4 linked regions of the Homo sapiens genome follow. The protein of the gene in region 1 interacts with the protein of each later gene in a pairwise test. Each region holds a gene or a part of one and is shown in the gene's direction. Other genes may lie near its edges. The genes, in order: ITSN1, INPPL1, EPS15L1 and DLGAP1.

Region 1 (2,896 bases):
GCTCAGTTTCCGGTTTTCTACATTCTGTGCTGTTTCCAGCTAAGAAAAAGGCGAACTCCCACTATATAAAGGGAAAAGGTTGTATTCATTTCATGTTCCTCATGAAATCTCTGCTGTATGTTTATGGAATGGCCATGACTAAATGTATATATGGTATGTAAGAGGCCATGCTGTTAAATGTTGCATAAACTAACACAGATTCTGTAGTCAAAAATATTTAACTTGTTATTGTAAAATGTGATTTGTCATTGAGAGATTATTTTTCTGTATGTATATGAGAGTATTTTAGGAATCTAATTTAAGTGCATAAAACTATAGAAAAAAATTTAAAACCTATTCCAAGAGTAGAAAATGCTTAATGAGATTACTTGGGTTCAACTCAACTAAATTTCTTATATTAAAAAAAAATTCCAAGTTGTATATGTTAGAAATCAAATGAGTCATTTTTTTTCCTGCAGGAAATATGATAAATTTCAGTGTAATGGATGGTGGCGTGATCAAATGAAAAGTATCCTGTAGCTATGACCTCGCATGGGACCTTGGTGTTGCATTAAAAATGGATTTTTGCAGATCACATATCTGAGAGGGTACTTGTGTCAGGAAGGATGAGAGGATAGGGAGCCTGTTTTTCATCAGATCCATGTGCCACGCAGGCTTCCTTGGGTTCTAGTGGATTTGTTAGGGATCTGGGGCTGACGCAGCTATCCCACTAGAGAGGCCACTCTCTGACTTCCAGGTCGCCCTTTCTACTTCTGTATCTGGATTGATTCAGTTTATCCCTAATTAGCGTTTGCGTTTTCCATGAAATTTCCTGATGCATCCTCACTGTCTTCAACTGTTGCATAGCCAGGTGGGTGGATGGATGGTTTAGGGTTTCTGAGTTAAGCCGTTTTGGGGCAGGCTTCTGGATGCCCATGTTTCCATGGAGACCCCAGGGGGAAGATGCCTTCCTCCCGTCTGCATTCCCAGAAAAGGATCAGAAGTCCAGGCTGCTTCTGGGGCACAGACTTTCTGTACTTGGCCACCAGAAGTGCCCCTTAGGCCACCTAAGGAGGATTCTGTGAAACTCAATGTCTAAACCCCTGAGAAAGGCATTCAGAAATGATTTCAGGAGGGGGCAACCCCAGGAGTCCAGCCTCCCCTGGCAGCCTGGAAATACTGCAGTAACAAAAAGAGCTGGTTTCTGGTGATCTGAATGCATTGTGTTTGGGGGTGACACCGCTGGTGGAAGGTTGAGGGCCTGTGGTCTGAAAAGACATCTGAAGAATGTGTTAGGTTTTCAACATTTCTTTGAACAGGCTGCGTGCATCTTAATGCTGTCAACCAGCAACTGGAGCCCCTTTTTTGAGAGGCCCGAACCAGTAAAGCTGCTGACTTCAGGAGTATGGGAAGCTGTGATTTCTGGAAGCTTCCTGGAATCTATTTAGGTGCATGAATAATCTGCAAATCACTTAGAGGCACTGTCCATGTGGTCCATAACTGGCTTTATTCCCAAAGATGGAGCTGTTCAGAGATTTCTTTGTTCAGGCGCAGCCTTGGAAGGCCACCTAAGGCCTGCCAGCAGAGGAGATGAGCTCTGGTCTACCAACCCCAAACAGGCCCTGACTCTCCTTCCTTAGAACGATGCCCTCTGGCTGGGGTGGCAAGAGGGCTGTGAGTGGAAACAAGTCAGCCAGTCAACTGTCCCTTGGGCCTTGGTTGTTTCAAAAAAGTCTGGGGACAAGAAAAGCTAGAACATGGGGCCCTCCCTTCCCAGGAGTGCTAGCGAACCCTCCCAGATAGCCTTTGCCTGTTTGGAAAAGAATGTAATCCATCAGAACGTGAGCTCCTTGTGCTTCCAGTGACAAGCGGGCCACAGTGCTGGTGGCATGTTGCTTCCCTCACAGCCCTGCCCAGGGGTAGGACCAGGCCCGCCCCTTGATGGATGTGCTGTTGATTGTAATATACTTCTGTTGCCAAATAATGGTACTGTTTAATTTTCCATAAAAGAGAGACTATATTGTCTGATATGTAATGTTAATGGAATTCTAAGAATTACTAGACACTATTATAAATTGTAGACTTACGTATTTGTCTAAAGGTTTGATGAAGCAGGGCCAAAACATTGTTTCTTCTTTTTTGTTTGAAAGAAGCTGAGGTTTGTTTTTGCTGTTTGAGTGTTCCTTTGGCAACTTATTATGTGTGAAATGTTAAATTTTACCGATTAAGATGATGGTAACTGAGACCTTTCTTTAAACCAGTAGCAACATCAGTACAAATTGCTCTTCCTGTGTATCTTGAACCTAAAAAGAACAATCTCTTCAAAAACAAAAACAAAAACAAAAAACAACTCTTTGGTCATTTTGACCTGTGTGGTTTAAATTCAAATAGTTCATGAATAAAAGGAGAAAAGCCAATCTGTTATAGTGGATTATTTTGGGTTCTTTCTGCTTCACTCTTTTCTGAGAGCACAGGAAGCTAACAGCCCTGCAAATGGTGTCTCTTCCTCTTCCCACAGATAAGATTGTAGCTGTGCAAGGAAAATTGTGCAGAAATAAACCTAGAAAACAAAACCAACCAACAACCCTTTCAGCTGTCCTGCGGCTTCAGATAAATGTTAGCTAACACCAAGCAGAAATAGATTTCTGTGTACGAAGTCTTTGTGAGAACAGGAGAAGTTTTGTGTTGTACAGCATAAGAAATTCTGAGGGTGGGGTTGAGAGGGCGGTGCAAAAAGCTGATTTTCTTATAAAGACATTCAGAAGGGTCGCTGAATTTCCAGGAAGAAGTTTCTAACACACGTAACTCCACGTGTTCAGCACTTGGGTGATCTATAATTCTGCGTTCCATAAAACCCAACGCTGAATTGTATTAGGTTGTTTCCTCCTGTTCTGGTTTTAAGGCCATTCCTACCTAT
Region 2 (7,035 bases), on another chromosome or scaffold:
GCAGCATAAACACAGGAGGCATACACACGTGTTAGCACGTTGCCCGTGTGTGCAAATGGGCTAACCAGGCTTCTGAAGACTCTTACTCTGGCGGGGAGCCCAGACTGGTACCACAGCCCAGAGGGGCTGTTTAGACAGCTGTGGAGGCCACAAAAGAGCTCCCTGTTGCTTCTCAGGCCCTGCCCTGTGGTGGGTGTGGAGTCTGTGTAGGTCTGGTGGGGAGACGGGGGTGTTCTGGTCATTCCTGCCCAATAGGCAACACCAGGAGGGTGGAAGTGGACCGGCCACATCATTAACCCTGTGCAGCCTGGGCAGGTGGTTTTAGGGAAACCAAGCTGAGGGGGTTGGGGTGCTGAGCTTGCTGGCAGGAGGAAGGGGTGCTTTGGGTCTTAGACCCCAGCCTGGGGGTGACAGATTCTGGCCCTGCCTTGGCATCAGGTATCAGAAGCATGTGCACACGTATCGCATTCTGCCTGATGGAGAAGATTTCTTGGCTGTGCAGGTAGGAGCTTGGGCCCCTGACCCCTGACCTTGATCCAGCCTAGGGCTTGGGGACCTGCTGGCTGACCCTTCCTCCCACCCTTGCTGGCCCACAGACCTCGCAGGGTGTGCCTGTGCGCCGCTTCCAGACCCTGGGTGAGCTCATCGGCCTGTACGCCCAGCCCAACCAGGGCCTTGTGTGCGCCCTGCTTCTTCCTGTAGAGGGTGAGCGAGAGCCGGACCCACCGGATGACCGGGATGCCTCAGGTACTTCCCAGTGTGCAGGTCCCCTCCCTGCCCCTGTCCCTTGGCTCTACCTGCCTCTTCCCATCCCCCCTTCTCAACCCCACCTCTCCTGTAACCCCCTTTCCCTTGGCCATGATGCCGGGGCCCTTTAACCCTCTTTCCATGGAAGTCACTTTACAGCTGCATCGTGCCTCCTACTCCACTGAGTGTGGGAGGCCCAAACGGCTGCCCACTGACCCCTGCCCACAGATGGGGAGGATGAGAAGCCCCCGCTGCCCCCGCGCTCTGGCTCCACCAGCATTTCTGCCCCCACTGGGCCCAGCAGTCCCCTGCCAGCTCCTGAGACTCCCACAGCTCCAGCTGCTGAGAGGTGAGACCCCCATCCCATCCACTGAACAGGAGACCCTTTCTCCTCTGAGAACTATTTCCCTACCAAAGGTGGGGAGGCCTTCTAAGACCCCACCAGGGACCCCCACCCCACCTCAGCCCAGAGGCAGATAACCTGATCCATCCCGCCCTGGTTGCCACAGGTACTATCTCCTCTAGGGATGGGGCAGAGGTGCTGGGACAGGTCAGCAGGACCTCCACTGACTTCTTAACCCCTCCCCAAAGTGCTCCCAATGGGCTGAGCACCGTCTCGCACGACTACCTGAAAGGCAGCTATGGGCTGGACCTGGAAGCTGTGAGGGGTGGAGCCAGCCACCTGCCCCACCTCACCCGTACCCTCGCTACCTCATGCCGGAGGCTGCACAGGTATCTGGGACATCCAGCCCCATGTATTACACCCTTACCTCTGACCTGTCCTCACCTGCTTCCCGGCTGCACAGGTGCCCTGATCTCTGATCCTGAACAGTGAACTAGCCATTGCCTCTTGACTTTCCTCACTGGTAGCCTTTATCCTTGTGGTGAGGTTGAGGCTACACCCAGCGCCCCCTTCCCTATACTTAGGTCGGGGTGGGAGTTCTTTTGATCTGATGTCTTCCCTAGTGAGGTGGACAAGGTCCTGTCAGGCCTGGAGATCCTGTCCAAGGTGTTTGACCAGCAGAGCTCGCCCATGGTGACCCGCCTTTTGCAGCAGCAGGTAGATTGTAGGGAGACCTCTGGGAGGTGCGTTCGTGTTCTGGAGCTGGGTGGGAGGCTCTGCTTAGGTGACTCATGTACAAGCCTGGTTCTTCCTCCCCCCAGAACCTGCCACAGACAGGGGAGCAGGAACTAGAGAGCCTGGTGCTGAAGCTGTCAGTGCTAAAGGACTTCCTGTCAGGCATCCAGAAGAAGGTGGCATGATCTCTGACCCTTGACCCCCGATTCACTGGCCACTGTCATTGGCCTAGCACTGATCTCAACCCTCAGTCTACAACTTAACATTGGCCCCAAGGTCAATTGTGTCCCTCCCTGCCCCAGCCTTCAGTGTGTCCCCTGACCCCGCCCTGCCCTTGTTCCCTCCAGGCCCTGAAGGCCCTACAGGACATGAGCTCCACAGCACCCCCAGCTCCGCAGCCATCCACACGTAAGGCCAAGACCATCCCCGTGCAGGCCTTTGAGGTACATGGCAGTGGGGCCTCACAGGGCCAAGGGTGGTTGGAGGTGACCAGGGTGCTGCCTACTCCAAGGTCTTGTCAGCAGCCTCCCCACCTGGCCTACAGGTGAAGCTAGATGTGACCCTGGGTGACCTGACCAAGATTGGGAAGTCACAGAAGTTCACGCTGAGCGTGGATGTGGAGGGTGGGCGGCTGGTGCTGCTGCGGAGACAGCGGGACTCCCAGGAGGACTGGACCACCTTCACGCACGACCGCAGTGAGCCAGGGCCAGACCTGGGAGGGGTGGGCAGGGCGGAGCCCCTGGCCTAGGGGCACAGGCCCATGTGACCGGTCCTCCATGCCCTAGTCCGCCAGCTCATTAAGTCCCAGCGTGTCCAGAACAAGCTGGGTGTTGTGTTTGAGAAGGAGAAGGACCGGACTCAGCGCAAGGACTTCATCTTTGTCAGTGCCCGGGTGAGCAGCAGGCTGGGCCAGGCCACTGGGGACTGCGGGGGTCCCCCACATGGGTGCTTCCCATTGGAGGGTAAGAAAGGGAACACATGATGTAGGCATGCCATCCCTCCTGGCAGGGGTAGGTCTGACAGGGTAGAGGGTGTTGAGAACGGGTGGCCTGAGGGTGGATAACATTTGCCAGCACTGTTATATGCTTGAGCAGTGGGTATGCAGTGGAGAACCAGACAGACCCTCTCCTCATGGACATGAGCCAACTGGCAGGGTATCCCTGTGGACGGGGGGCTTCCTGGATGCCTACCCGCCCCTGAGTGGCTGCTGTTCCCCCAGAAGCGGGAGGCCTTCTGCCAGCTGTTGCAGCTCATGAAGAACAAGCACTCCAAGCAGGACGAGCCCGACATGATCTCAGTCTTCATAGGCACCTGGAACATGGGTCAGGCCCGGGCTGGGGCTGGGGCGGGAGAGAGGGATGGCCCCAGAGCAGGTGCCTAACCCCTCCAGACCCACCTCACCCCCTTCACCTCCAGGAAGTGTACCACCTCCAAAAAACGTGACATCCTGGTTCACATCGAAGGGTCTGGGGAAGACCCTGGACGAGGTCACAGTGACCATACCCCATGACATCTATGTCTTTGGGACCCAGGAGAACTCAGTGGGCGACCGCGAGTGGCTGGACCTACTGCGCGGGGGCCTCAAGGAGCTTACGGATCTGGATTACCGCCCGGTGAGGGGGGGTCATCTTGTCCAGGACCCTGTCCTCACACACCACCTCCAAACTAGCCTACTTGACTTCATGGGCAACCCTGGGAGCACAGCTTCACTGGCTTTTTCTCTGGTCCCTGAGCATATCCTTTGGGAGATCTGACCTGAGTCCTTCATGCCACGAGAGGAACCATTTCTCTCCAGTCCGTCAGGAAGAGGGGTGGCAAGCCTTCCTACCCTGTGATGGACACAAAAGTCTATTTATAGTGCAGGGGGAAATGCAGGCAGTGGGTGCAGCAGGGCAGTGGTGACCATGCACTCTCTACCCAGATTGCCATGCAATCACTGTGGAATATCAAGGTGGCAGTGCTGGTCAAGCCAGAGCACGAGAACCGTATCAGCCATGTCAGTACGTCCAGTGTGAAGACTGGCATCGCCAACACCCTGGGTAAGTGGGGCTGGCAGGTGCCCAAGAGTGGCAGCGTCTCTCTGTCCATGGCTTCTGCTTCCTCTCAAGCCTAGGATTGCCCCATTTTTGGTGATCTTAGTTTCCCCATATATAGGGTACTTTGAACTTTGAAAAACATATTCATATTCTAAATCTCTCCCAGCACCACTGGGAAGGCAAGGCCAGGATAATTACCCCCTTTTCACAGATGATAAAACTCAAACCCAGAGTGGTTGAGTGACCTGCCCAAGGTCACACAGCAAGTAAGTGGTGGAGCCAGGCATTGTGCCCAGGTCTCCTGATTTTCGGTCTGGTGCTCTCCCAGGTAGATTCTGCGCAGAATCTGCAGGGCCTTTCAGCTTCACCCTTGGGGTCCCCTGTGATCTCCAGGGGCTCTGCTCACACATACAGACAGACTCAGGCCATCCACACAGACCATGTGTGCCCAATGAGGACCCCCCCCTCCCCCAGGGAAGGTGTGGGTGTGTGCAGGGGCCTGCCCATGTCACAGCGTCTGGTGGGCTCAGCGGGAGGATCCTCTCACTGCAGCTTTGAGAGGCAGAAGGGAGAGTTGGGAGCCCTCTGAGGATGACCCAGGCCTTCCTCTCTTGCTTGCCTTAACAGGGAACAAGGGGGCTGTGGGCGTCTCCTTCATGTTTAATGGCACCTCATTTGGCTTTGTGAATTGTCACCTCACCTCGGGAAATGAGAAGACGGCTCGGTGAGGGGGCGCCTTTCCCATGGTCTCTTTACACCCATCCCATTCACCTGAGGCCTGTTCCCGCTCCCATACCCTAGCCCATGACCCTCCCGCAGGCCTGTCTCCAGAGACCCCCTGCTCTCTTATCCCAATTCAAGACCCTTCTGTTCCTGACCCTAACCTTGTCCCCAGGGGCCCGGATCTTTACCCCATCCCTGACTCCTGAGACTTCTTCCCTTTATGCCTATCCCTGACTTCTGGCCCTGACCCTGGGGATCTACCCCTCCCCACCACGCACCCCTCACCCTAGGAGGAACCAAAACTACTTGGACATCCTGCGGCTGCTCTCGCTGGGCGACCGGCAGCTCAATGCCTTTGACATCTCTCTGCGTTTCACACACCTCTTCTGGTTTGGGGACCTCAACTACCGCCTGGACATGGATATCCAGGTGCGAGCAGGGCCCTGCCATGGCTGTAGGGAGGCTAAGGGCCACATGGGCTATCACCCCTGGCTCTGGCTCCGGAGGAATGTTTCTAGCCTTTGTGTCCTCCACCCCAGGAGATCCTGAACTACATCAGCAGGAAAGAGTTTGAGCCCCTCCTCAGGGTGGACCAGCTCAACCTGGAGCGGGAGAAGCACAAGGTCTTCCTTCGATTCAGTGAGTGTGGGCCTGGTAGGTGGTGATCTGAGGGCTAGGAGACTTGCAGTATCCCTGGGTGTCAGGGCCCTGAACCCCACCTGTCTCCTGCTTTCCTTAGGTGAGGAGGAGATCTCCTTCCCACCCACCTACCGCTATGAGCGGGGTTCCCGGGACACATATGCCTGGCACAAGCAGAAGCCAACTGGGGTGAGCCAAGAAAACGGCATGGGCCTTGGGGGACCGCAGGCCTGCGATGAATCAAGAATTTGGGTCAAGGGTATGGGCCTCTGCAGCTTCCACTCCAGCCTCCATGGCCCCTCTGAGGCCTTTGGGTGATCCTGGGTATTTTGAGGATCCAAGAAGGGAGGTGGGTGCTAGGGCCTCTAGTAATAGAAGTGTGGGGACTCATCAGCTCTGGAGTGGGGTCCATGCCAAGCAGCCTCCTAGCTGTCAGCTCTAACCATGCTGCCATCCCCTGCCCCAGGTCCGGACCAATGTGCCCTCATGGTGTGACCGGATTCTGTGGAAATCCTACCCTGAAACTCACATCATCTGCAATTCTTATGGTCAGAGCCTCCCGGACAGAGTGATGGGAGATCTGGGGTGGTCACCATCTGGACTCTGCCCTAACCTTGGGAGGTGGGAGCCGAGGGTGGGAATATTCCCCCTGAGTCCCCATTCCTATCCCCTCTCCCCAGGTTGCACTGATGACATCGTCACCAGCGACCATTCCCCCGTGTTTGGGACATTTGAGGTTGGAGTTACCTCCCAGTTCATCTCCAAGAAAGGTGACTGTTCCAGATATGCTTGTGGGTGTGGCATAATCTAGGTGGGCACAGGTGGTGGCCTCGGGATGTACATAGGTTTGACTATGTAAGTGTGTGTGTGGGTGTGTGTACCAGTGAGTGCAGGAGTGTTTCTCAAGGTGTGATGTGTCAGGGTGTCTGTGCGCCTGGGCCATCACAAGAGTTGTGTGCCCATGAGTGTGTGTGCATACGTGAGTGTACACCTATCTATGTGTCTGTGTCTGTCTAGGGCCACGTGTGTGTCCCTGAGTATGCCTGTAGGTGTGGGAATCCTGCAGGCATTCTGGTCCCCAGCACCCTCTTCAATGGGTTTTTTATCCTTGGGTTGTCTCTTTGCTCTGGTCCAGGGTCTGGCCTCTGGAGATTCCCTGTTGGTGGCTTGGGACTGGGGAGGCCCCTCCTGGCCCTGCCTCCTTGCTCTGGACCCCTGATTTCCTGTCCCAGGGCCCTGTTTCTCTGTCCCATTCCTCCTGTGATCCTCTCAGTCCTCCTGTTTGTTCTCCTCCCTTTCTCCTCAGGGCTCTCAAAGACTTCAGACCAGGCCTACATTGAGTTTGAGAGCATCGAGGCCATTGTGAAGACAGCCAGCCGCACCAAGTTCTTCATCGAGTTCTACTCTACCTGCCTGGAGGGTCAGAGGCGTGGCAGGGGCTGGGTGTGGGCCAAGGAGGATGGGAGGCAAGAGGGTGCAGTCAGCCCCCTACTTAGGGGGAAAGGAAGCTGAGAGGTGGTGCTCAGTTGGGTGTCTCCCACCCCCACCCCAGAATACAAGAAGAGCTTTGAGAATGATGCCCAGAGCAGTGACAACATCAACTTCCTCAAAGTGCAGTGGTCTTCACGCCAGCTGCCCACGGTGAGGCTGTGGGCAGGGCCCCTGCTTATGGGTGAGGGCACAGAGAGGGGTACATAAGAGTTTATTGGAGAGCCTGCCTGGGAGGGAGTGTGGGGCCAGCAGAGAGAGAGAGAGAGAGTGTGTGTGTGTGTGTGTGTGTGTGTGTGTGTATGGGCATGGGCATGAGTGAGG
Region 3 (7,580 bases), on another chromosome or scaffold:
TGCTGATAAAACAGGTTGCAGTAAAGAAGCCGGCTAAAACCCACCAAAACCAAGATAGTGATGGGAGTGACCTCTGGTGGTCCTCACTGCTACACTCCCACCAGCGCCATGGCAGTTTACAAAGGTCATGGCAACATCAGGAAGTTACTGTATATGGCAGCCTGAAAAGGGGGCCGGGCGCGGTGGCTCACGCCTGTAATCCCAGCACTTTGGAAGGCTGAGATGGGTGGATCACGAGGTCAGGAGATCGAGACCATCCTGGCTAACACAGTGAAACCCTGTCTCTACTAAAAATACAAAAAAATTAGCCGGGCGTGGTGGTGGGTGCCTGTAGTCTCAACTACTCGGGAGGCTGAGGCAGGAGAATGGCGTGAACCCGGGAGGCGGAGCTTGCAGTGAGCCGAGATCGCGCCACTGCACTCCAGCCTGGGTGACAGAGCGAGACTCCGTCTCAAAAAATAAATAAATAAATACATAAATAAGTAAAAAGGGAAGGCATGAATAATCCACCCCTTGTCTAGCATATCATCAAGAAATAACCATAAAAATGAGCAACCTGGCCAGGCACAGTGGCTCAAGCCTGTAATTCCAGCACTTTGAGAGGCCGAGGCAGGCGGATCACTTGAGGTTGGGAGTTCAAGACCAGCCTAACCAACATGGAGAAACCCCACATCTACTAAAAATACAAAATTAGCTGGGCGTGGTGGTGCATGTCTCTAATCCCAGCTATTCAGGAGGCTGAGGCAGGAGAACCACTTGAACCCAGGAGGTGGAGGTTGTGGTGAGCTGAGATCCCGTCATTGCACTCCAGCCCTGGCAACAACAGTGAAACTTCTCCCAAAAAAAAAAAGCAACCAGCAGCCCTTGGGGCTGCTCTATGAAGTAGCCATTCCTTTATTCCTTTACTTTCCTAATAAACTTGCTTTCACTTTACTGTATGGACTCGCACTAATTCTTTCTTGGGTGAGATCCAAGAACCCTCTCGGGGTCTGGATCAAGACCCCTTTGCGGTAACAGTACAAAGGGTCTGATTGTGAGAAGTGGCAGGGATCACTGGAACTCCACTTCAGATCCCATCTGGATCATCAAAACATCAACCCTAAATAAATAAATTCAGGAAATATGGTTAAATATAGAGTTTAGTTTAGCACAAAAGTTTGAGGACGGCCACCCTGGAACACAGATTCCAAAGAATGGAAATCAGCATTCCAAACTGAGGAAGTTTGGGGGTCATTTATATAGGTAAGGTTTGGGAAGCTTGACAGCGTTTCTACATATTTCACACAAGGCAAGTACATAGTTAACAGTAATCTGATTAGTCAAGGCAGTGGTCTTTTTGGGAAGGGTATATTTAACATTCACATAGAGGACATAACAGTCACAGGACCTTTTGCACTATCTGGTCTGATTTAGGTGCAAGATAATAGAGGAAAGGTCAGCAATGAAGAAGGGCGATCTTAACGCTGATGCCATTTAGTCTTGAAATGAATCTACAGAGCAAGAACAGGAGAGTTAATCTATAATCTATAAGCAGAAGTTGTAGTTACATGCTGTCTGGCTCAGATCACACAGTCCCGTTTTCTTCAAGGCTCAACATAATTCTTAGGGTTCAAAAGTGTATGATTAAGTTTGGATTTTTTTTTTTTTTTTTGAGACGAAGTTTCTGTGTTGCCCAGGCTGGAGTGCAGTGGCGCGATCTCGGCTCACTGCAAGACCCGCCTCCTGAGTTCATGCCATTCTCCTGCCTCAGCCTCACAAGTAGCTGGGACTACAGGCACCCCCCACCATGCCCGGCTAAATTTTCGTATTTTTAGTAGAGATGGGGTTTCACCATGTTGGCCAGGATGGTCTCGATCTCCTGACCTCATGATCTGCCTGCCTCGGCCTTCCAAAGTGTTGGGATTTCAGGCGTGAGCCACCATGCCCGGCCTTTTTTTTTTTCTTTTTTTTCTTCTGAGACGGAGTTTTGCTCTTGTTGCCCAGGCTGGAGTGCAATGGTGCGATCTTGGCTCACTGCAACCTCCCCATCCCAGGTTCAAGCAATTCTCCTGCCTCAGCCTCCCGAGTAGCTGGGATTACAGGCACCCGCCACCACGCCTGGCTAATTCTTGTATTTTTAGTAGAGATGGGGTTTCACTGTGTTGGCCAGGCTGGTCTCGAATTCCTGACCTCGTGAACTGCCTGCCTCGGCCCTCCAAAGGGCTGGAATTACAGGTGTGGGCCACCGCGCCCAGCCAAGTTTGGATTATTTTTACAAGATGATGCTGGAGAGTTTCTATGGCCACCACCATTCTAGACTCTGATACTGGCACTTAAAGCCTGCATGCTACATTTCCTGGACGCCGTTGCCAATTGGCAACGTTCCTGTCATGCTTTATTAGAACAAAGTTGGGAGGCAGAAAGAGGGGAGAAACCATTTTTTCAGACTTCTGCCAGTGGCTTAGGTGGTGGTGACAACAACAACTGTGACTTTCGCAATCATGGTGGAGGCAACTGTGGCTAGCAAGGGTGAACACATCTGGGATCCTTCTGTAGGCACAGTGATTGTGGGTTATGGGTCCTCCTGTGCTTTATTTATTTATTTATTTTGAGACGGAGTTTCGCTCTTGTTGCCCAAACTGGAGTGCAGTGGCGTGATCTCAGCTCACTGCAACCTCCGCCTCCCAGGTTCAAGTGATTCTCCTGCCTCAGCCTCCCGAGTAGCTGGGATTACAGGTGCCCACCACCACAACCGGCTAATTTTTGTATTTTTAGTAGACACGGGATTTCATCATGTTGGCCAGGCTGGTCTCAAACTTCTGACCTCAGGTGATCCATCCACCTCGGCCTCCCAAAGTGCTGGGATTACAGGCGTGAGCCACTATGCCCAGCCACCTCCCCTGCTTTAATCTTTCAGCTCTAGAGAGGCTAGCAGCCTCATATAGTTATGAATCTTTAGGTAAACTTACCTTCCTCTTTTGTTCTTCCAGTACTTCCAACACTTTTATACTCAGTCCCCTGTAGTCGTTTATGTATTCATTTATTTTTATTTATTTATTTTTTAGACAGAGTCTCGCTCTGTCACCTAGGTTGGAGTGCAATGGTGAGTTCTCAGCTTATTGCAACCTTCCCCTCCCAGGTTCAAGCAATTCTCCTGCCTCAGCCTCCTGAGTAGCTGGGATTACAGGCACCTGCCACTGCACTGGGTTAATTTTTGTATTTTTAGTAAAGATGGGGTTTCTCCATGTTGGCCAGGCTGGTATCAATCTACCTGTCTCAACTGGATTGCTGGGATTACAAGTGTGAGCCACAGAGCCTGGCTCAATCCCCTGTATTCAATATCCTCTGTTTGAAGTACCTAGAAGGACTTCTCTTTTCCTTATGGAATACGTACTGATAAAGCACTCAAGACTGTTAAAAACCTTCATTACTCTATTGATGTAACAAAAGAAGCTGAGGCAAAGTTAATATAAGTAGAGAGTTTGGGCCAAGGTTGAGGACCGCAGTCCAGGAGACACAGATTCAAGTTGCCCTGAATGTATGCTTTGATTAGCAACAGTTACAAGTGGGTTCTTTTTGTTTTTGACTTTGTTTTGAGACAGAGTCTCACTCTGTCACCCAGGCTGGAGTGCAGTGGTGCAATCTTGGCTCACCGCAACCTCCACCTCCCGGGTTCAAGTGATTCTCTGGCCTCAGCCTCCTGAGTAGCTGGGACTACAGGCATGCACCACCACACCTGCTAATTTTTGTATTTTTTTTAGTAGAGATGGGGTTTCACCATATTGATGTTTCACCATACTGGCCAGGCTGGTCTCCAACTCCTGACCTCATGACCCTCCCACCTCGGCCTCCCAAAGTGCTGGGATTACAGGTGTAAGCCACTGTACCTGGCAACAAGTGGGTTCTTGTCTTATTTATTTATTTATTTTTGAGACAGAGTTTCGCTTCTGTTGCCCAGGCTGGATTGCAATGGTGTGATCTTGGCTCACTGAAACCTCTGCTTCCTGGGCTCAAGCAATTCTCCTGCCTCAGTCTCCTGAGTAGCTTGGATTTCAGGTGCCCGCCACCACAGCCAGGAGGACGCCTTGCGGGGCAGGGTGAGGGGGGCAGGGTGCGGGTCCCCCAAATTAGCGCGCACACACACACACACACACACACACACACACTGCGATCCTAGGAACAGGGCGCTTTGCGGGGCAGGGTGAGGGTCCCGACCCTCCGCGGGGTGGGCGACCGCCTCCCCAGGCGCACTGGCAGGGGGACGGCATCCCTAACAGAGAACCAGGCCTCGGCATGGGCTGGAGGGATGACACAGCATGGTCGACTCGGACAGCGGCCAGCGGCATGAGAGTCCGAACAACGTTGGAAGGAGGAGTAGGGGAACGGGCAAGAGAGCACGGAAGACGCAGATGCCTCAGGCCCAGCCCCTCCAGGCTGCGTGTGGGCGGCCCCGCCCCTGCCCCCGCCCCTCCCGGCCTGACTGCACATGCGTGGCCCTGTCTACGGCCCCGCCCTCTCCCGGGACAGGCGGCCTGCGCACCGCCCTCCCGTCGTCCCAGTGCGCACGCGTGGCTGCAGCCCCGCCCCCGTTCCCCCGGCGCTCGGAGCCCGAGTCCGCGGGAAGATGGCGGCGCCGCTCATCCCCCTCTCCCAGCAGGTACGGGCCGGGCGGGCCTGGGGGCGGCGCCGGGGTGCGGGGCGCGAGGCGAGCGGTGCGGCGAGGCTGAGGCGCTGGGAGACTCAGCCAGGCGGCGGCGGGGGCGGCGCGTGCTGAAGGGCTTGCGGCGGGCGGGTGGGCAGGCGGCCCTGAAGGTGACAGGCCGGGACCCGCGGCCTCCCGTGCCCGAGCGACCCTCGCGGGCACCGGCGAGGCGAGGAGGTGCGCAGCGCGTGTCCTCTCCGCCCAGGGCCCGGACCCTGCCGCCGCTGAAGCTCCCAGGCCGGGGACCCGCGGAGGCGCTGGGCTGCATCCCGGAGGGGTGGGCGAGGGGTGCGAGCGTTTCTGTCGGCGCGGCGGCCCAGCGAGTCTTTGTCTCCCTCCGGTCCCGGCGCCCGGGCGGGCAGGGTCCCGCCGGAGCCCGGACCCGTCAGCAGCAGTGCGATCTCAGACTGATCCCCTGCCTCCTTGGAAGCTGCTTCCGCCACCCCTGCACCGGGCGCAGATCGTACGTCTCCGGGCGCCTCTCTGTGTCCTCAAATTCGCCTGATGCGCTTATGAAGGGGCAGTATCGATAGCGCGACACAGACATGCGAAAAAGAGCCATGCGTAGGCAGCTCTGTTATTTGGGAGAGACTTTCATTCATTCATTTTCTATCCATCCCTCAAATGTGCGTTGGGTCAGGTGCTGGGAGCGCTGCATTCTTCCAGACAGACAAGGTCGCTGCTTTCCTGGAGGTGACACTCGTGGGAACTAGAAACTACCTGTGTTATGCTAATCACAGCTGCCTTTATTTGCTGAATACCTGTGTTGTGCAAAGCACCATATAAGCATTTTGCTAGAATGATCTAGCACAGCATGGTGATTAAGAGTGAGGACACAGGGTCAGATCATGTGTTCAAATCTTGGCTCCAGCCCCGATTTCTCTGTGCCTTTGGTTGAAGCTCTTAGCCATTCCACCCATCAGTTGCTTCCTTTGGAAAATGGAGATATAAAAATGTGTTGGGATTATGTGAAAATTAAGCACGTGAAAAAGCGCTTAGAACAGTGCCTAGCATATGAGAGGCACTCAGTGATCCTATAATTACTGTCATCATTTAATCTCTGCCAGATTTGGACGTTTGGGAGTAGAGACCGCAGCAATTAAGAATTCCAAACCCAAAGAGAGTTGATAGGCCGGTTGCATGCTTGCATGACTGGTTAGCTGATCCAAGGAGAGAGAAGTGCACAGCTAGCCAATTTGCAACACTGTCACTAAGTTAACAGTGCTAAAACCCGGTGATTATTAATTAGCAAGTTCTTGTTACTGACATGAAAGTGCTCTGTAAACTGTTAAGTGTCCTACCGATAATAGGTGTTAATAGCTAAGTGCTACAGTTTAGAGTATGTAGTCAGGGGGTGGGGGGCGGGGAAGGCGGGAGTCGGGGGAAAATCACCTAAGATCATTTCATGAGAAAGCACTAAGCACTCCCAGTTTGGGAGGCGTGGATCTTTCTAAAACTTCCTGTCCAATTTTTTTTTTTTTGAGATGGAGTATTGCTCTGTCACCCAGGGTGGAGTGCAGTGGCATGATCTCAGCTCACTGTAACCTCCGCCTCCCGAGTTCAAGTGATTCTCCTGCCTCAGCCTCCTGAGTAGCTGGGACTACAGGCACGTGCTACCACACCCGGCTAATTTTTGTATTTTTTTTTTAGTGGAGACGGGGTTTCACCATTTTGGCGAGGCTCGTGTCAAACTCCTGAACTCGAGTGATCCACCCGCCTTGGCCTCCCAAAGTGCTGGGATTACAGGCGTTAGCCACTGCGCCTGGCCAGGTCACTGACTTCTTAGCCTCTTCCTGTTCCTTTCCCTATACATTTGTTGAATGAAGGCGTGGCCTGGTTTTCTTCGTTTGGAAATGTCAGCACTTCTTTACACTTGCTCTCGAGTGAAAATCTACACCATGGGTTACTGTTGGCCCAGGTGTGAGGCATGGCCCTCCCAGGCCCTTACTGTCTAGCTCAGGAGATCACTTGGGTTCACAGATAACTCTGGGGGAACCAAGGGTATAATTCCAAAATTTTTGGTTGGGGGCAAAAGGGAAGCACCCTGCAGCAGGTGGCTGTGATCTGGTTGGATTTAGGTGACAGAGCACACTTGGCAAGCAGATGGCCAGGTGAAGGTGAGCAAAGTGGATAACCCAGCGGGCTAGCCTAGGGGAGGAGGGGTGTGTTTTCTCCACCCCCACTCCTGTCTGCACTTTTCCCATCAGCATCTTTTTCAGTCTGTTCTGTACTCCATGACATCATCTCAGAATCTCCTTCCTTATATACTCTTTTCTGACCCTGAATATCAACGTAAATTCGAAAGGTCTGCACCTCTGCCTCTTTAGGAGTGATTTTTTTTTCCCAACAGCATCTCAGTGATTTGTGTGTCTCCCTGTCCCCCTGCTCAGCTCTCTTCTGCTTTCCAAAAAGCCTTCCGTGGAAATGCATCCAGATCTCTTTCCTCCTTGTACTCCCCGAGGTTACCGGTGGCCCCTCCGTCCTTAACCCCGGTGCCCTGTGGCTGCAGCCGATCCTCCTCGAACTCCGCAACACTGGAGCCCGTCGGTCTTCACTCTTCATCCTCTCTCCTTTCAGTCTCTCCTTCTTGTCCCCTAATTTCAGCCTCCCTACCTGCATCTTATCTCTCTGTGCGCTCCCTCCCCTGGAGCTTCTGTGCAGAGGACTTCAAACCTGCCTTCTAGAGTCCAGAAGGTGTCTCTCTCCTGCACCTCTGCCAGCCTGCTGGACTCTGGAATGGGCCATTTCCTTGCCATGCCCCAAAGTGGTCTGGGCCATTCTACTTCCTACTTGCCCACTCCCTCCCACTTAATCCCACGCCACTGTGGAAGTCATCTTTTTGATTTTTGAGACAGGGTCTCGCTCTGTCCCCCAGGCTGGAGTGCAGTGGTAGGATCAT
Region 4 (7,035 bases), on another chromosome or scaffold:
TTGCAGCAGCAGGCAAGGAAGCTTTCTAATGATGCTCTTGGTCACACCACAGGTGGCAGCAAGTGGTACCCATGGATACAACTTATAAACATTAATTAGGAGAGGGGGGAAAAAAGAAGTGACAGAGATAAATGTGCTGGAAAGGGAGTTTAAGAGTAAGGCAAGAGGAAAATGAAGAATGAGAGAAGGAAGAGCAGGACCTCCATAGTAGGTGCCACCAGCAATTGTCTACCCATTGCCAATGGCCTTAGGATTTTAGATCATTTGCCCTTGCTCACCAAGAAGTCACAGAATGTGTTTTCTTTTATAATCACAAATTGACCTATTTTCATTTTAAAATGACAAGACGATAGAAGAGAGTGTAAGATTTGTTACAGAAAGGGCCATGGTATTAAGTTGTTTATTTGGCCTTGACCAGAAAGATAGATTTAGCATTTAGAAATGTTTATTGCCATTTTTTATGACCTTCTTTTCCCACATCATAGAGAAAAAAGATCAAGATCTCAATATCTCTTTTACAAATACAAGTAAGGAAGGAGGAATGTTAGCTTATTTATTCTGGATGCAATTTGTTACCCTCCAAGAAAATAGAGGTGCTTGTCCTGTGCTGAAAATAGCCCAGTTAAATTTTAGTAAAAAACACACTGTGTATGATTAATTTACAGAAATTATCATTGGTTACATCATTTAACTTAAATCATCATTAGTGGCCTTAAACAGCTCTTCGTTTGCTCTGCTTGTCCTCAGGTAACGTCATCTTGCATGGAATGTTGCTCACATATTAAAGATAATTAAATACTGAATACCTGATTAAAATAATCTTGTATATTTTGGAGTAAACATGTATAATTCATGTTTTCAGCTCTTGCCAGTTTCACATTTTATTTAGCAGAAAATATCTACCCAAGATTCAAACTGCTTGAGAAGGAAAGTTCGAAACATTATTCCACATCATTTTATATATTGAGATTCTACTATATGTGATCATAAAAGTTAGTATGTGTCTATAATCCTAATAGAATCTTGTTTTTGCTTTTTATAAGTCTGTATTTGAAAGGCAAAAATGTCCTCAGTGGAACCTGATTTGTAGAGAGAGACTTTCTTATGCAATGGATTTTTGCATCTAAGTTAGTTTGTGCCACAGTTTTGCTAAAAACACATACTTAACCCTCTTACATTCTTCCTTGCCACAGCCTACTTTTAGGACCATAACTTCATACAAAGCAATCCCAAGGTTTTCTGTTTCATTAGTCTGTCACCAGTGGACACGTTTTTTACCTATCGGTTCTTCCTTATCCACAGGTATCATAAGTCCTGAATTCCTTTTTTGTCCCTTCAAGAGTCAGTTTCTCTCTCTCTTCCAGGCGGATTGCCCTCTGTCTAAGCATCCTGTAGTCAGCAGGTTAGGCAAACTCCCCAGACTTTACTTCCAGACAGGTAGAACGGCAGAAGGTACGATATTGCCCAGTGAGTTGCAGAGTTAGAAGTCAAAGGTATATAGGTCAGAAGGAGTGTTCACCAGTCTGCTTCCTGCCTTGCTCTGAAGACTGGTCTTTGGAATGGTCACCCTGATGGAATGGTCCCCCCAACTATTGGGCATCTTTCCTTGGCCTTGCCCAGCCTGGCCTTTGCCACACAGTCATGTTTTCATTAAACAGATGCTACTTGAATCACACTATGAACCACTTTGGGAAATTTTGCATTAATGCATTAAGTAATTGAGTAAATATTCTACTAACTTAATTCCCACTATCCACTAGGATAGCACTTTGCCAAATACTAGGTGGGTGAAACATAGTCCCTACCCTTAAGGACGTCACAATTTAGTAGACTAACAAATTTTGAGTGACTGTACTGATTAAAACCTTTCATCATTATTCCTGAATGGTCAATCCAGAAACTGGGAGACAGGAGGAAGAAAGGAGCTTCACAAAGCATGGATAGAGATTGCCAACATTGTCATGAGCGCTCCCAGATGCAGTATGTCTCATGGAATAGACAAGACCTGGCCTCTCAAAAATCTTTTTTCATGAGGTCCAGTGTGGGTGTTTTATATGTTTGTTTGTTTTTGTTTGTTTGTTTGTTTGTTTTGAGATGGAATCTTGCTCTGTCACCCAGGTTGGAGTGCAGTGGCACGATCTCGGCTTGCCGCAACCTCCGCCTCCTGGATTCAAGCAATTCTCCTGCCTCAGCCTCCCAAGTAGCTGATATTACAGGCTCCCGCCACCATGCCCAGCTAATTTTTGTATTTTTAGTAGAGACGAGGTTTCACCATGTTGGCTAGACTGGTCTTGAACTCCTGACTTCAGGTGATTCGCCTGCCTCGGCCCCCCAAAGTGCTAGGATTACAGGCGTGAGCCACCGCACCCAGCACTATATGTTTTGTTTCTTAATTAAACCACATATCTATCTCTCTAGGAATATCTGAAATGACATTAGTGATATTTTAGAGAGTCATGTTGGCTTTCCAAGATGACTCTTTATATGGCAATTTTTGTATTGTAGGAAGTCTTGAAAGAAAATCAGGCTGTCAGAAGGAACTTGGTCAGGCACTGACTCTAACACTGTTTTGGAGTCCAGAGAAAATACTCTGCCCTGATGGAATAGCAGCCTCTGTTAGTTACTAAAACTCCGGAAGATCCGAGCTTGGAAATGGACTGAGATACCCTACATGGGATATGAATGAGTGACTTTTCCCTGAGGCTGAGCTATTAGGTCTGGGGTCCTTCACTCATGTCCTCAAGAACTTTTCAAGGGCCATCCTTTGGTCATTTTGCCATCGGCTATTAACTTTTTTTTTTTTTTTTTGAGACAGGGTCTCATTCTGTCACCCAGGCTGAAGTATAGCGGTGCATTCACAACTCATTGCAACCTCAACCTCCTGGGCTCAAGCAATCCTCTCCCCACTTGAGTAGCTGGGACTACAGGCATGCACCACCACTCCCAGCTAATTTTTTTTTTTTTAAAGACTGGGTCCCACTATGTTTCCCAGCTTGTCTCAAACTCCTGGGTTCAAGCGATTCTCCAACCTTGGCCTCCCAAAGTGCTGGGATTACAGGCGTCAGCCACCACGCCTGGTCTTGTGCGTAAATACTCAACCAGAAACCTTAAACTAGGAAGAAGAGATATATGATCCTCAAATTAGCCTAGTCAAGCTTAACTTGTTCTCTGTTTGTTTAGAGAAAGCTCTTGACCCTCAATTGACAGAAATACCTGGGCAGATTTTCTCTACATTTATGATTTATTTGCCATATCTTTACTTTTTCCCACTCTGAGTAACCTGGGGGGATTGTTTGTGTGGTGAAGTTGTTCCTACAGAATTCAAAAAGGAAAACATGCAACAGAAGACAGAGATATCCTAAAGATACGAGGTGCCATTGGCTTCTATTATTCATCTTAGTGTTTGTTTGTTTGTTCTGAGACAGACGGAGTCTTGCTCTGTTGCCCAGGCTGGAGTGCAGTGGCACGATCTCGGCTCACTGCAAGCTCCGCCTCCCGGGTTTATGCCATTCTCCTGCCTCAGCCTCCCGAGTAGCTGGGACTACAGGCGCCTGCCACCATGCCTGGCTAATTTTTTGTATTTTTAGAAGAGACGGGGTTTCACCGTGTTAGCCAGGATGGTCTCGATCTCCTGACCTCGTGATCCACCTGCCTCGGCCTCCCAAAGTGCTGGGATTACAGGAGTGAGCCACCGCGCCCGGCTCATCTTGTTTTTTAACTCACATTTTCATTCACACTTATGGAGTGCTATTACTGTGTGCTTACATGGCTGGATCGACACTAGGTCGGGGTACATAATGAGACTAATAGACTGGGAGGCAAGGAACATAAGCCGGAAGAGAGATCCTGAAGCAAGCAACTCTGTAGGTTCTGGGGAGTGAGTTTCAGATGTGGTGGAAACACAAGAGAGGAACTAATTCTCTCTGCTAGGAGAGCCAGCAGAGGTTTCCTAGAGGAACTGAGCCCCTCTCCAGTTCTATCTTTAACAATTAACATGTAGAGACTAGCCTGACCAACATGGTGAAACCTCATAAATACAAAAATTAGCCAGCCATGGTGGCAGGCACCTGTAATCCCAGCTACTCTGAAGGCTGGGGCAGGGGAATCACTTGAACCCGGGAGAGAGAGGTTGCAGTGAGCCGAGATCGTGCCATTGCACTGCAGCCTGGGCAACAGAGCAAAAACTCCATCTCACAAAAAAAAGAAAAAGAAAAGAAAAAGAAAAAAAAGAATAAGACCCAAGAAGCAAGAGAACGATACATCCAGTTATTGGGGTCATAGAGGGAAGGAGAGTTATTGTTTCAAATAATTTAAAAACAATTTGGTTTTTTTTTAAATATAGTTTTCTTTTCCTAGTTTTCTTTTTCTTTTTTTTTTTTTTTTTTTTTTTCTGAGATGGAGTCTGGCTCTGTCCCCCAGGCTGGAGTGCAGTGGTGCCATCTCTGCTCACTGCAAGCTCCGCCTCCCAGGTTCAAGCAATTCTCCTGCCTCAGCCTCCCGAATAGCTGGGATTACAGGCACCCACCACCACGCCCAGCTAATTTTTGTATTTTTAGTAGAGACAGGGTTTCACCATGTTGGCCAGGCTGGTCTCAAACTCCTGACCTCAGGTGATCCGCCCTCCTTGGCCCCCCAAAGTGCTGGGATTACAGGCGTGAGCCACCGCGCCCGGCCTCCTTTTTCTAGTTTTCTAGCTTTACCTCCACCTTCTCTCCCTACAGGCTTTGGAGTCAGCTTTCCTGCCCCACAGAGGTGACAGAGCTCTTCCAATAATGCGTTCAAGCTGTTTTAGGGGACACTGATTAAGTTCTGCCAAAAAAACACGGTCGCAGATGGCACCCTCAAGAGATCAATACCAGGCCTGCAGGGTTGCTCACGCCTGTAATCCCAGCACTTAAGGGAGGCCAAAGTGGGAGGACAGCTTGAGCCCAGGAGTTCGAGACCAAGCCTGGGCAATATAGTGAGACCTCCTCTCTACAAAAAATTAGCCAAGCGTGGTGGGGCCTGCCTGTAGTCCTAGCTACTCGGGAGGCTGGTGTGGAAGGATGGCTTGAGCCCAGGATGTGGAGGCTGCAGGAAGCAGAGATGGCGCCTGTGCACTCTAGCCTGGGCAACAGAGCAAGACCCTGTAAAGTGCAATACCTAATTTCCAAGAGAAATGTTAACGACTTTGCCCTTTTCTTCATTCCCCCAGATCCCTGCCCAAGACGGGTCTGGAGCCTGACTTCCGGGTGTCCATGACCCTGGCGGCTGCTTCCGGTCCGCCATGAAAGGGCTATCAGGCAGCCGCAGCCATCACCACGGGGTCACCTGCGACTCGGCCTGTGACTCGCTGTCGCACCACTCCGACCGCAAGCCCTACCTGCTGAGCCCAGTGGAGCACCACCCCGCAGACCACCCATACTACACCCAGCGGAACTCCTTCCAGGCTGAGTGCGTGGGCCCCTTCAGCGACCCGCTGGCCAGCAGCACCTTCCCCCGCAGGCACTACACCTCGCAGCAAGAGCTGAAGGACGAGTGTGCCCTGGTGCCCCGCACCCTGGCCACCAAGGCGAACCGCATCCCCGCCAACCTGCTGGACCAGTTCGAGCGGCAGCTGCCACTCAGCCGCGATGGCTATCACACCCTGCAGTACAAGCGCACGGCCGTGGAGCACCGCAGCGACAGCCCCGGCCGCATCCGCCACCTGGTGCACTCGGTCCAGAAGCTCTTCACCAAGTCGCACTCCCTGGAGGGGCCGTCCAAGGGCAGCGTCAACGGGGGCAAGGCCAGCCCTGACGAGGCGCAGGCGGCGCGCTATGGCAAACGCAGCAAGAGCAAGGAGCGGCGCGCGGAGCCCAAGGCCCGGCCCAGCACCTCCCCGGGCTGGTGGAGCTCGGACGACAACCTGGATGGTGACATGTGCATCTACCACGCCCCCTCGGGCGTGATGACCATGGGCAGGTGCCCCGACCGCTCGGCCTCACAGTACTTCCTGGAGGCCTACAACACCATCAGCGAGCAGGCGGTGAAGGCCTCCCGGAGCAACAACGACGTCAAGTGCTCCACCTGCGCCAACCTGCCGGTCAGCCTGGACACCCCGCTGCTGAAGAAGAGCGCCTGGTCCTCCACGCTCACCGTGAGCCGGGCCCGGGAGGTTTACCAGAAGGCCTCGGTGAACATGGACCAGGCCATGGTGAAGTCCGAGTCGTGTCAGCAAGAACGCTCCTGCCAGTACCTGCAGGTACCATTTCTGTCAATGATGGAGGCTTAGAAGTAGTACCTGGCATGCTTGTGTGGGCATTTCTCCTGGTTCTAGTCTTGGCACTACTCTGAATTGTCTATTAAGATAGGAACCTGTGCAAATTATTCGGCATCTCTGTGCCGAATTGCTCCTGTAGGGAAAATGAAAAGAAACAAATGCTACCGACCTCACCGGGTTATCTTAAGACACTAGATATCCAAGTGCTTTGAAAAGCACGCCTATGGAAAGGCAACCAGTTATTATGGGCTTCCTCTTTTGTCTGAGGGATCATAGGATGGGAAAGAGAGGAAAGGGAAGTCTACAGAGAATTTTAAAAGAAGTCCACCTTTCTTTAATTCAAAAATACGTGACGATCGTTTGAATTTTGGAAAGAGTTTCATTAGATCTATTCAGGGTTTTGTGGGGTGGTTTTCATTGTGAAATCCTGCCTGAAGCTATGTTAGAATACTGCGATGGTCATCATCATAACCATCAGTAACTACACCCCGACCTGAGCTTCCACATCGAGGGCACAGCAAATCAGGAAGACGCCCTGTGCCCTGAGGAGGTGGGGAGCTAGCCAGTTTGGGGACCTGACAAGCACAGCTGCAGACACCCAGGACAACAGAGAGGAGGAGGAAAAGGAGGAAGGATTAGAGAAGTAAAATACAATTAGTGTCAGCATGTAAATCCCACACACTTACAGAGCCACGGTAGGCTGCTCTTCCCCTGCCACTGTCTCCTTGTGTTTTCCTCCAGTTCACTGAAACCAGATGTTACCTGGATAAAAATATAGGAGAGAGATGTTTTTC

Evidence for each region.
Region 2: the proteins of ITSN1 (region 1) and INPPL1 interact in binary tests that used the Homo sapiens proteins (3 or more experiments, as listed by UniProt).
Region 3: the proteins of ITSN1 (region 1) and EPS15L1 interact in binary tests that used the Homo sapiens proteins (3 or more experiments, as listed by UniProt).
Region 4: the proteins of ITSN1 (region 1) and DLGAP1 interact in a two-hybrid assay, tested with the Homo sapiens proteins (2 studies listed by BioGRID and IntAct).

What each region holds. Positions count from the first base shown.
Region 1 is NC_000021.9:33,897,466-33,900,361, forward strand, and holds the end of ITSN1 (intersectin-1), read left to right. Parts: 3' UTR 1-2,396; downstream 2,397-2,896. UniProt on the Homo sapiens protein: Adapter protein that provides a link between the endocytic membrane traffic and the actin assembly machinery. Acts as a guanine nucleotide exchange factor (GEF) for CDC42, and thereby stimulates actin nucleation mediated by WASL and the ARP2/3 complex.
Region 2 is NC_000011.10:72,227,752-72,234,786, forward strand, and holds part of INPPL1 (phosphatidylinositol 3,4,5-trisphosphate 5-phosphatase 2), read left to right. Parts: intron 1-438; coding exon 439-502; intron 503-596; coding exon 597-747; intron 748-975; coding exon 976-1,096; intron 1,097-1,256; coding exon of another isoform or gene 1,257-1,338; coding exon 1,339-1,479; intron 1,480-1,713; coding exon 1,714-1,807; intron 1,808-1,911; coding exon 1,912-2,001; intron 2,002-2,172; coding exon 2,173-2,268; intron 2,269-2,369; coding exon 2,370-2,520; intron 2,521-2,610; coding exon 2,611-2,717; intron 2,718-3,044; coding exon 3,045-3,147; intron 3,148-3,241; coding exon 3,242-3,438; intron 3,439-3,746; coding exon 3,747-3,864; intron 3,865-4,488; coding exon 4,489-4,585; intron 4,586-4,874; coding exon 4,875-5,013; intron 5,014-5,123; coding exon 5,124-5,223; intron 5,224-5,323; coding exon 5,324-5,412; intron 5,413-5,689; coding exon 5,690-5,771; intron 5,772-5,903; coding exon 5,904-5,993; intron 5,994-6,529; coding exon 6,530-6,643; intron 6,644-6,775; and 2 more. UniProt on the Homo sapiens protein: Phosphatidylinositol (PtdIns) phosphatase that specifically hydrolyzes the 5-phosphate of phosphatidylinositol-3,4,5-trisphosphate (PtdIns(3,4,5)P3) to produce PtdIns(3,4)P2, thereby negatively regulating the PI3K (phosphoinositide 3-kinase) pathways.
Region 3 is NC_000019.10:16,468,969-16,476,548, reverse strand, and holds the start of EPS15L1 (epidermal growth factor receptor substrate 15-like 1), read left to right. Parts: upstream 1-4,578; 5' UTR 4,579-4,603; coding exon 4,604-4,636; intron 4,637-7,580.
Region 4 is NC_000018.10:3,878,300-3,885,334, reverse strand, and holds part of DLGAP1 (disks large-associated protein 1), read left to right. Parts: intron 1-5,194; 5' UTR 5,195-5,266; coding exon 5,267-6,223; intron 6,224-6,927; exon of another isoform or gene 6,928-7,003; intron 7,004-7,035. UniProt on the Homo sapiens protein: Part of the postsynaptic scaffold in neuronal cells.